2 separate regions of the Homo sapiens genome follow, and region 1 is linked to region 2. The links come from fine-mapping of genetic effects on gene expression. Tissue or cell type: thyroid. Region 2 holds a variant in brackets; the other region holds the start of a gene. All regions are shown on one strand. Distances are between the middles of the regions.

Region 1 (5,377 bases), 59 kb before region 2:
CCAGGAGTCAAGATGCAGATAATGGTATTGTTCCAGTCTTGAACCATTTCATTTCATCTTCCTGATGTTCACGAGGCCATCAAACAGACATCAATGATGAATTCCAAGAAAGTTTTATTTTTAAAAATCAAGTTTTGATATAATAAATGTTGGATTGAGGATAGAAATTTAAGCTGAGAAATGTTTAATTTGGACCTAAAAAAGTTTATTATTACTATTATTATTGTGGAAGGAAATACATACAGGCACATTTTAGTATCTACAACAGTATTTGGGAAGCTGTTATGAAACACAAAACTTCATTTAAATTTTATTATAAAGACCTTTATTAGGAGAAAGGACATATTTTCTATTTCTTACTTTTATTTTGTGCCTTGAAGGACTTGTGAATGTATAGAATAATTATTTTTTCTTACTGCTTCCTCTTTGCAACCCAACCTCCACCAAGTCAATCGTGAAGGTAGGAAGAAAGCTGTATTTCTGTTACTTTTAAAAATGATAACGAGAAGAAATTAAAACAATGGCTTAAGAGAAAGAGGATGTAAGGAGTACAAAGCAAAACTTAACAAAGAGTTAGTAAAGGAACTTGCATTGACAATTCACTCAGCCATGTTAATTTTATCATTAATACTGTCTTCATCATTTTTTTTTCCAGGTCTCTCTGCTCGTATTTGCTTGGTGCTCCGAAATGCACGGGAACAGACAGCTATGGGAAAGCTGCACAGAGCAGTTGGCAATCAACATGTCCTAGAAGGGTGTGTGGAGTAGCAAAACAAGTGGAACGGATGAAGAACTTCCAAGCTCCTTCGCAGAGTTTTGGGCCCTAGTGTGCAGGGCTGCTCCCTCATGAGATGGAGGACAATGTCGCCCACACCTACTTGGACCTCTCACCAAGGACACTGCCCTCAGAGATAAATCTGTTGGACGGCAGCCAAGAGACCCCAAATTGTCTCAACCTCCAGGACACGGCAAGTTGCAAGTTTCCGAGTTGGGGAGGCAAAGCGGGAAAACATGTTTGGCGATTTCCTCCTGCCACTCACCGACCGGAGAAATGGGGAGGCGGACTCCAGGTCTTTCGTGGACTGCCAAGAGCCCTATAGGGCGTCCAGCTATAAAAAGAGAAGAATCCCATGAAGGACAACAAGCAAACTCATATGTTATCCCTTTAGCCGGATTGTGTGCTGATGATTGTTTCCCTATTTACACTTCGAATCACCCCTGTGGTCTTTTGTGAGTCCCCAAGGCAGCCTCAGCCTTCGCAAACCGTCCAGTGGGGCACGAATCTCGGAGGGGTGCGGGCTGCAGGCGGCAGAGGGAAGCCAAAGAGGGGCGGCTTTTCCAGGCCGTCCACCCCCAGGCGAGCTGGTCCTCACCCTTCGATCGGCTCGAGTCCCTCGGACAGTTGCCCACTCACAGCGTGCAAAGGGGTCGCACTCCCTGTGGGTTCTCCGCCCTCAGAAGCGGCGCTGCGCAGGAAAGTCACCTCCACTACGGGCCGGGAGTAGGGAGGGGAGCACAGTGACAGGGTTGGGGAACAGCCGAGGAGGAGTGGGGGTCGCGGAGATAGGGGTGGGGACGGCCGCGGAGAGGGCGGTGGGAGTGGGGTGGGGCCGGGGAGGGCCGGGGGCGGGGCTGCGGGGCGGGGTGCGCCACAGCGCCCCCTAGCTGCGCGCTCCCCACGGTGCCCTGAGGCCGCTGGTGGCTCTGGCTCGGCAGCCCCTTTGTGTGCGACGCGCTGGTCCCGAGGAGCGCGGCACGGGCACAGCGGAGGCCTCCCAGGGTCCCACCGCTTCTGTCCCAGCCAGGCCGTGCTCTCCTCCTTCTCCTTCTCCGCTCCTCCTTTCTCCGGTCCCCGGCCTCTGGTTCCGAACAGCAGCCATTGGGCCTTGACGAGCCCGCGTCCGGCCGCGCTCCCTACCCCGCCCGGCCCGGGACGCTCGCCCCCCTCCCGCCCTGTCCCTTCTGGATCCCCGCCCCACCCCCCCACCCCCCACATCCCGGGCCTCCAAGGTGGAGAAAATAAACTACAAGCAGAACAACTCAGAATCTCCAATAAAACGCCCAGTACCTAGAGCCCGAGCGCGTGTGCCGGGCTGCGAGGGGCGCGGGAGGCGGGGATGGGGGGGCGGGCGGGGGGGACAATGAGCGCATGAAGTTACCTGCCCGGCGGCGGCGGCAGCGGCGGCGGCGGGACCAAGAGGCGGCGGTGGAGCAGGCTGCGCGCTCGGCGCCGACGGGTGCGCGCCGCGGCTTGGGGGAGAGTTGAGCGCTTTTCCCCCCTCTTTTTTTTTTTTTTCCTCTTCTTCTTAAACAAACCACAAACGGATGTGAGGGAAGGAAGGTGTTTCTTTTACTCCTGAGCCCAGACACCTCACTCTGTTCCGTCTAAGCTTGTTTTGCTGAACACTTTTTTTTAAAAAAGGAAAAAGAAAAGGAGTTGCTTGATGTGAGAGTGAAATGGACGTAAGATTTTATCCACCTCCAGCCCAGCCCGCCGCTGCGCCCGACGCTCCCTGTCTGGGACCTTCTCCCTGCCTGGACCCCTACTATTGCAACAAGGTGAACGCTCTGCTTTTGTTTCCACCGTGTTCTTGCTGCTTGATCCTGGGAGGGGAGCGGCGGTGGCCGGGCCGCGGCGGGGCCGGCTTGGCGGAGGCCGGTCCCGGGCGCGCTCGGCTCGCAGCCCGCTGCAGCCTGCGTGCGCTTGGGTAGTAAATATTGTGGAGTAGCTCCGGGGGCTTGCCAAACACCGCGATTGTGCGGAAAGTGACACGATTTGCTCGGATTCTTTCCTTCCTGCTGTTCGCGGCTAAGGATCCCTGCCTAGGTTTGCCGGGGGGCGTTTAAAAAAATAATAAGAGAAAACCGTGGAATACTTTGGGGGTGTGTCTGGGGTCCAGGAACGGAGGCAGAGTAAGAGAATTCAGTTTATTTCCCAGTTCCCCCTTCTCTCTCCCTCCCTCCCCGGGCAGTGGGGGCTCGTGGCACCACTTCCCTTCTCCGGATTAGTTGCCAGGGGAGCAGCCGGGAGTCGGGGTGCAGGGACCTGGGAGGCGCCCCTGCCCCCCACAGGGAAAACTGCCCCACAACTCTTTTGTTTTCTCAAACCGGTTCCGGCAGCCGAGCCCGGGTTCGGACACAGGTCCGCGGGCCAGAGCACAGCGGGGTAGCTGGGTCAAGGTTTGGGGAACAGTTCCTGTTTAAGGGGTGCGCGCGGAAATTGCAAGTTTGTTGGGAGCCGGGCGAGCACGTCGCGTTCAAGTCCAAAGCTCCCGCACTCGCGGAGCAGGGTCCGCGGCTGAGCTGTACCCACGGCCCGCTGACCTCGGGTGCCAGGGCCGCGGGGGCCCGGGGAGAGGCGGATCATGCCGGTGACCCGGAGGTGGGGCGCTGGCCTGGGCTGCTGCGGAGTTCGGCTGGGTCCACCTATAGGACAGTCAGGGGGTACGAGGGAGGGGGTTACTCTCCCGGCTTCTCGAACTCTCTCATCCCAGAGAGGGAGGACACGCAGGGACCGGTCCCCCAGAGTGGTCGCAGGGGCACGACTGCCCACGCCTAGGGCTAGTTGGACGTGTCTAAGCAGTCCCGTTGGATGAACGTTGGCAGAGAGAATTGAGTTCTCTAAAACGCTGGGCGGGCCTTTTAGACGCCCAACTCTCGCTTGGTGATAAATCTGCCTGATACTCACAGCCCCTGCAGGCACATCCATGGCGACCCTCGGTGCATTCCACGGGAAAAATCGTTGGGACTCCCAACATTTGCCTGGTGGCGAGTCATCACCAAACGGCTTTTTTACCTGATACAGAGATATTTAGTGCGCTGCCTTCTCAGCCCTGGACTCCGCACCACGCGACCGAGTCGCAGCTCCGAGTCTTGGACAGTGTTGACACACAGGCAGGCTCTCACACACACACTTCCCCGTGGAGAAGCTCCTCGATGCTGTGTCCAGTGTGAGACCCACTCAAAGGACTGTGCTGTGTGCCGATGGTGTTTAGGCAAGTTAGAAAAGAGGGACATCCAGTCTTGAGCAAGGCAGAAGGGCTTCCATTGTACAGGGAGCCCTTCAGCTACGGGCAAGTTGAAAGGTACGGGGAACTTTGGCAAGCGCATAGGAGTTTGTGTGATGAAGTTTCATTATTTGCTGGTGACATAGTTCTTTTAGTCTAAAATCTGTTTTGTCTGTACACTCAAGTATTGTGTTACGTTTTATTTTGCTTATGACACCAATACTATTGCTAATAAAAAATAATAAAGTTGCAGCCCTATCTTGGAGAGTAAAGACTTATTCCACTGTAGTTACCGGAACCAAAAGCTCAGAACTATTTTGGCAATGAGACTGGACAAATCTTATTAAGTTTATCAGTGATTTTAGGCCCCAAAAAGAAGTTAATGACTTGGATACACATTTCACTCCTCGTTCTTGTGATAAGTAGGGTCAGATTTAATTTAAAAGTTAAATGCTTTGGAAAATCAGGAATTACTTCAATATATTAAATCATTTTCCAATTAAGTGCTTTAAATAATTTTAGTGGGTTGTGCTGTGAATTGAATAAATTAATTTAGAAAGTATTCAGAATTTCTTTACTAGCTCATTGAAGTTCCTTTTAAGTCACCCCGTGTATAAGAAGCAAACTGTTCTTTTTAAATGCAAATTAGGCACCCTTTCTGTAGACTAGTTGCGAGTCTTCTATTTAACTTATCCAGAGAATAATAGATTTTTTAAAATCCAAAGTCATAAGACATGTTTCTAATAGTGGAAGAAGACTTCATGGAAATGTTTCTCCAGGGACATCTCTGGCCCATCTCTGTGTAGCAGTCCATCAGATATATTTGTCACTGGTCCCGATTATATTAAATGTACTGGATAGTTTTCTAGGCCCCACAAATCCCAGGCACTTGAGTTTTTTCACTCCACCATGATTAGCATTGGTACAAAATTTCTGTCCAGCTCCACAATTGTAGTTGTGCATAATGCAGTCAACTAGCATTTGTTTTTGCAATGACATGAGTGGATTTGCAGGGAAATGGAAGAAGGACAGAAGTTTGGAAAAGGTGAAGTAAGAAATCTGTGCCTACATTTATTAAAACAAGTTGGATCAGACATCCCCAAAAGAACAATACTGCAAAGTAAATCTTGCTTCCTTCGGAGGCGTAATGAATATGTAGCTTACTACAAATAGCAGTCAGTTTGTCAGGTGATTTGTTTTTAATAGGGTGATAAGATCATAAATTACTAATTATCTTTATTTTAAACCTGTCAACACTTTGCTTATTTAAAGTTGGTGTGCTAAATCCCAGCGGAACCAGTATCTATCTGTGCTTTAGAATCCTACAACTGTAGCTACAGTTTCCCGGTGACATTTTTTTCAATGTCAGA
Region 2 (5,377 bases):
AAATGCTATACAGGAAGCCTCTTCTTGGAATGTTTAGGACAAGTAAATATTCCTCAGAACAAGCTTTTGAGCTTGTAAAATCTCAATGAAAATACATAAAAAGATAAAATCTGAATCTGAAGAAGAGAAGCGCCAAGAAAGAAGATGGAGGGGCGTCACTCCCCTTGTTCTGCTGTTGCCTTCCTCCCTCTCCTGGCAGGGGCTGGGCATGGGCGCACGTGGATTTTGCTTTTCTCTAGCTCTGCCTTCCTCTTCCATGGTGATCTCCAAGAGGCTGTCATTCCAGACCTTCTGAGTTTCTTGCTACTAGATATATATAGGAAAGTGTTAAATGATGGAACGACCGACATAAAGGAGTGGGCTTTATTCAAGGGGTTGCCATCCTCTTATCATCACCTGGCCACCAACTATGAAACTGGTTAAGGATCTTTACAGCCAGATGGGGGTTTTGCTAGTAGTGACTATGGGGTGGGGGAAAAGAGGGGATTTTTACCAGATAAACATTTTAAAACATTTATTTAAAAATTGTGGTAGAGGAAATTACCGAAGAGGCCATCACAGAGAAAAAAATACTAGGTAATTACTAAACCTTTACTGAACGTTATCTTTTAGAGATACAAGCTGTTTTGTTCCTCCATTTACAGGAGTGAACTGGTTTGTGGCATTGCTTTCCATACAATCTTTTCATCAAATGCCTTTTATCTCAACAATCAGTACCAATTGCTTTGGTTTCTTTGGTTTTCGATGATCCACATTGATTATTTAGAAGCTGAAGCATTGCCATTCATAATACTTTGATCCAGTCATTTAATAACATGATTTTATGCACAAGTATACACACGCACACACTCAAACACAGATTTGGTTTACAATTTTGTAAACATGTTCTGTTTTCATTTTCTGTTTTACATTATTTACAATCTATCATTTTTACCGTACAATCTCTTGGTAATCTCCTGTAATCTTTGCTGACTTATTCATATCTCAGTAACTCTAAAAGATGCAGCTTTATGGAAGATTTTGAGTAGGGAGTGATACAAGGGAAGAACATTCAGCAGGAAAAGATCGATTGTATTTTTCAAATAGGTTTTCCCCCAATAGTAGCGTTGTTCTTCAACTAGCCTTGGTTGGTTATGAGTGGCTTAATGTTCCACTCTAAATATAAGATATAAAGGGCACCAAACAACAAGATACAGTGGCAAGTATAGTCAGTCTCTGTCAGCCCTGGTTTCCTCATTTGTAACATGGGATAATGGTATTATTTAATTTTTGATGTTACTAAGAGAATTGAATGGCATAACAGGCAAAAATGGCTTCAAAAAGGTGACAGGTATAAAACAAACATTGGCTATTAGTACTATTTTTATGTTATTATTACATATAAAATGTTTGTTTGTTTGTTTGTTTGTTTTTTGAGATGAAGTCTCGCTCTGTCACCCAGGCTGGAGTGCAGTGGTGTGATCTTGGCTCACCGCAAGCTCCGCCTCCTGGGTTCAAGCAATTCTCCTGCCTCAGCCTCCTGAGTAGCTGGGACTACAGGCACGTGCCAGCACGCCCGGCTAATGTTTTGTATTTTTAGTAGAGACGGGGTTTCACCGTGTTGGCCAGGCTGGTCTCAATCTCCTGACCTCGTGATCTGCCCGCCTTGGCCTCCCAAAGTGCCAGGATTACGGGCGTGAGCCACTGCGCCCAGCCATAAAATATTAATAGCCAGCACACTATTGGGATTGGGAGCCAGAAGGGTATAAGGAAGAAAGGAAGAGTTGCGATAAGTAAGTCTGTTGAGGTAGATTTGAGTAATCCACATGAAAAGACATAAAGACACGGGGCTATCAAATGTTGTCTTGATGGAATTAAACACTCTGTTATCAATTATTACAAAAATAGTGGGAATGCCAGCTGAGACAAGGTAAAATGATAAGGTAATAGCATCCTAATAAAACGGGAAATCGTTACACAATTTTAGAATTTTGTCAAAGAATAAATGCTTTATTTGTATTTGTCTCTGATTATGAAAAAAAAGAACTATGGTTGATCAAGGTAAAAGATAAAAAGATAAGCATACATTAAGCCTGTGTCTACTTACTATAAAAATCTAGATGATTTTCTTTCTAAAAGATTTTTTTTTTTTTTTACAACATAACATAAAAGGTGGAAACAAGACTTTGGTCACTTCCCAACACTAATGTGAACATTTTCTAGATGTTCACTACTCCTTTCTGGCCACGATAACAAGAGTTCTTTTGAAACAATGCCACAAAGCAGCACTAAATATGTGCTCTCCCACACT[C/G]TGTACATAAGGGAAATCAAGTAGGGAATAATTTTACTAACTGTTTGCCAAGGTCAACTTTTCTGTTTTTCAAAGAGTAATGTGTTTTCCTTGACAAATAATGTAATCCATTCTGCATTGAAATATGGGCCTCCTGATATGGGATTCTTTCTTGAATAATAATATAAATTCATGTTATCTAATTTGACAGTAGACCACTGTATGGACATTTAAGAAACAAAATGAGTGTTGATGTTGTTCAGAGGAGATATATTTATTAATGACTCTTTATTCTTCCTTTTCCATTCTGTATCTTTAGTAACTTGGTGATATTTCTCAGTTAAAAAAAAATTTAAAGAGTAAAATATTTCTTCTTTTTACCTTCCAATTAAATTATTTTCTTCCGGTACTTGGAATGGGGATTCTGTAGGAGCTCATCTGATCTTTAGAAGAACATCCAAGGTAGCCCCACCTTCTCCAGGCTCTTAGAAAGGAATTAAATTTTATTTTAATTTTGGTGATGTGAAGGAAGGGGAATGAGAAAGGATCATGTTTTTTGAAATTCTTTTTATATTCTAGAAGACAATTACTTAGAGCAAATTGGCTCTTACTTCACTAGTTAGGCACCCTCATTATCTACTTAAAATACCTCTATCTTCTCTCATTTACAAACAAATAGAAAAGCTGCCGGTATACCTCAATTCAAATCCTCTCTGGCCAGATTACTCTTACTGCTCTTGAAGAAGACTTTACTGTTTGCCTCCTACATTCTAGAAAGGCCAACCAGCAGTCTCACTTGGCTGAGAAGTTGGCCATCAGGGTGTGCTTGATGTGCAAGATTAAAGACCAGAGTTGGCTGTCTTCCTGGATGCCCTGGGCTGTGTTAACTTTCTTCATTGAGAGAAACTCTGACCTTTTAATAGATATTTTGTTGTTGTTAATTGTAAACAGAGAAAGGCTCCTTGGTCTAGGAGGCTCTTGCTGGATAGTGGCTGGTAGGAAAATAGTTGCAGGTGGGGAAAGGCACCATGGAGCCTCCTGAGCTCCTTCTGGAACCTGGGGAATCAGACCCTCTGACTTGGAGCGCACAACTCATCATAGTCAGCATGCTGGCTGCTAACGTATTTAAGGATGAACAGTCACAGGGCTCGCACTTAGGAGTCCCTATAGCTTGTACATCTTTAGCTGGGGCAGACCCACATGATCCTGAGAATGTGGCTTGCCTTCTTCCGGAACTTAGTGTCTCCAAAGAGAAAAAGACAGAAATGAAATTATCAAAGGTGTCTCCTTCCAGTGGGCAAGCATGTGGATTCAGCTCACCATTTCCACCAGTTACAGCTGCTCCCCTCATGGCCCCACTTGCTCCTTCTGGACCACTTGAAGGAACCAGCTCATGCTATTTTTCATTCCCACCTTTATGTCATCTTAGAAACATAGTCCTGAAATATATACGTAGTTCTTTCCTCCCAAAGCAGTGCTGTCTCCCAAGCTCAGCTCACCCAGAAAGCCACCACTGATCAATCCAGGGAAGTGAGCTGCTCCACCTTCCAAATGCTAGTGCTGCCTTGAGCAGCTCCTGAAAATTCTGCTCCTTTGTAGCAAGCTTACATGGGGAGAACTCATCTGAAATGAGATGATATTCTTAGTTGCTTAATCATTTTTTTCTTTAAGCTTTCAAATAATAAGTAAACCATTGTCTAAACAAAAATCCTTTTGAAATAGGATAGGGATATTGGTTTTATATTTTAAAAATATTATTTTTTCCGTCTAGAGCCTGGATTGACCTGTAGTCCACATTCTAGAGCACCCTTTGGGTCAAGCATAAAAAACCTGGGAGGTGGAGGTTGCAGTGAGCCGAGACTGTGCCACTGCACTCCAGCCTGGGTGACAGAGTGAGACTCTGTATCCAAAAAACTCCAAAAAACAAAAAACAACTTCCAGAAGTTTTGATGATTGAAGTTTCCTGAAGATATTTACAAAAACAGCTGATTATTAAAGGAATACATATTGCTTGTAGAAAATATGGAAAATGAAGCAATAAAAATGTGTAATTCGACCACTCAGCATGCATTTTTTCCCAGCATTCATATATATAATTATAAATATATGGTATTCATATACACACTGTTTTGTTTGTGTACACTGAAAGGCGGGGGGCGGAGAGAATATACTTTTTATTCACCCACAGCAGTTACAAGCATGAAATCTGGAGTGACACAATGTCATTTTAGGCAAGTTCTTTAATATCTCTAATCCTTAGGTGTTTGGGGTGAGGATTAAATCAGATACTAGGAACTAATACTTATTGTTTCCAGTGTCTTGAACATTGTTCTACACATTTTATACACAATAACTCTTTTTAATTCTCACAACAAACCTATGAGGTGTGTATTATGACACTTTGCCTCTGCTTGTATGCAAATAATACTTGTAAAGGGCTCAGTGTAGTGTCAGAGGTGTAATAAATACTATTTGTATGTGATTTTTTTTTCTACAAGATATGGCCAGTTTGTAACAGAAAATTTTATAGCATATTTTTCATTTTATGTTTCAATATTTTCCCTGAATCATATTTTTATTTAAATATAAATTTACTAGTTAATGTCTTCATTAATATGTAGTGCTCAAGGCAGCACTAGCATTTGGAAGGTGGAGCAGCTCATCTCCCTGGATTGTTCAGTGGTGGCTTTCTGGGTGAGCTGAGCTTGGGAGACAGCACTGCTTTGGGAGGAAAGAACTACGTTATTAAAGGGTATCAAAGGGTATTTTTCATACTCTTTTTTTCTGGGGATAAAAATTTAGATTCTTACATTAGTAAAGGCTAGGGCCAGCTTTTTGTATATTATCTGTTCAAGTAAGTGTGCAGTTTTTCTAGACATGTCATGACCTTATCTTTCCAAGCAGCTAGTTAAAACGGAGAGATCTGACTTGCTGCCAAGAAAGGGCCATTGCTTTTGTCTTTTTCTAGTTGCTCTTCATGTGGGCTTATGTGGGACTCTAGGGAAGCATGCACAGTTGGTTTTTTCAATCAGATACTTCCTAAACAGGTGGCATGTGACTTTTCAGATAACAGAACGGAGTAGAAATTTCTGCATTGATGTGCATTTT

The links.
Region 1: it holds the start of TOX, and the variant in region 2 is fine-mapped to the expression of TOX in thyroid (GTEx, PIP above 0.99).

Annotation. Positions count from the first base shown.
Region 1 is chr8:59,116,068-59,121,444 of GRCh38, reverse strand. TOX (thymocyte selection associated high mobility group box) reads left to right here and starts at 2,298. Exons shown (of 9, transcript NM_014729.3): 1 at 2,298-2,559. The coding sequence starts at 2,458. It overlaps TOX-DT (TOX divergent transcript), which reads right to left and starts at 2,235. Exons shown (of 3, transcript NR_149031.1): 1 at 2,160-2,235; 2 at 1,374-1,488; 3 at 1-1,109. RefSeq lists a silencer at 1,554-1,773.
Region 2 is chr8:59,056,664-59,062,040 of GRCh38, reverse strand. All of the region lies in intron 1 of TOX (thymocyte selection associated high mobility group box), which reads left to right. Among named protein-coding and RNA genes, the nearest start is that of TOX, 60 kb to the left of the region's middle. RefSeq lists an enhancer at 2,719-3,255. The variant C/G (reference allele first, on the strand shown) is at 2,291.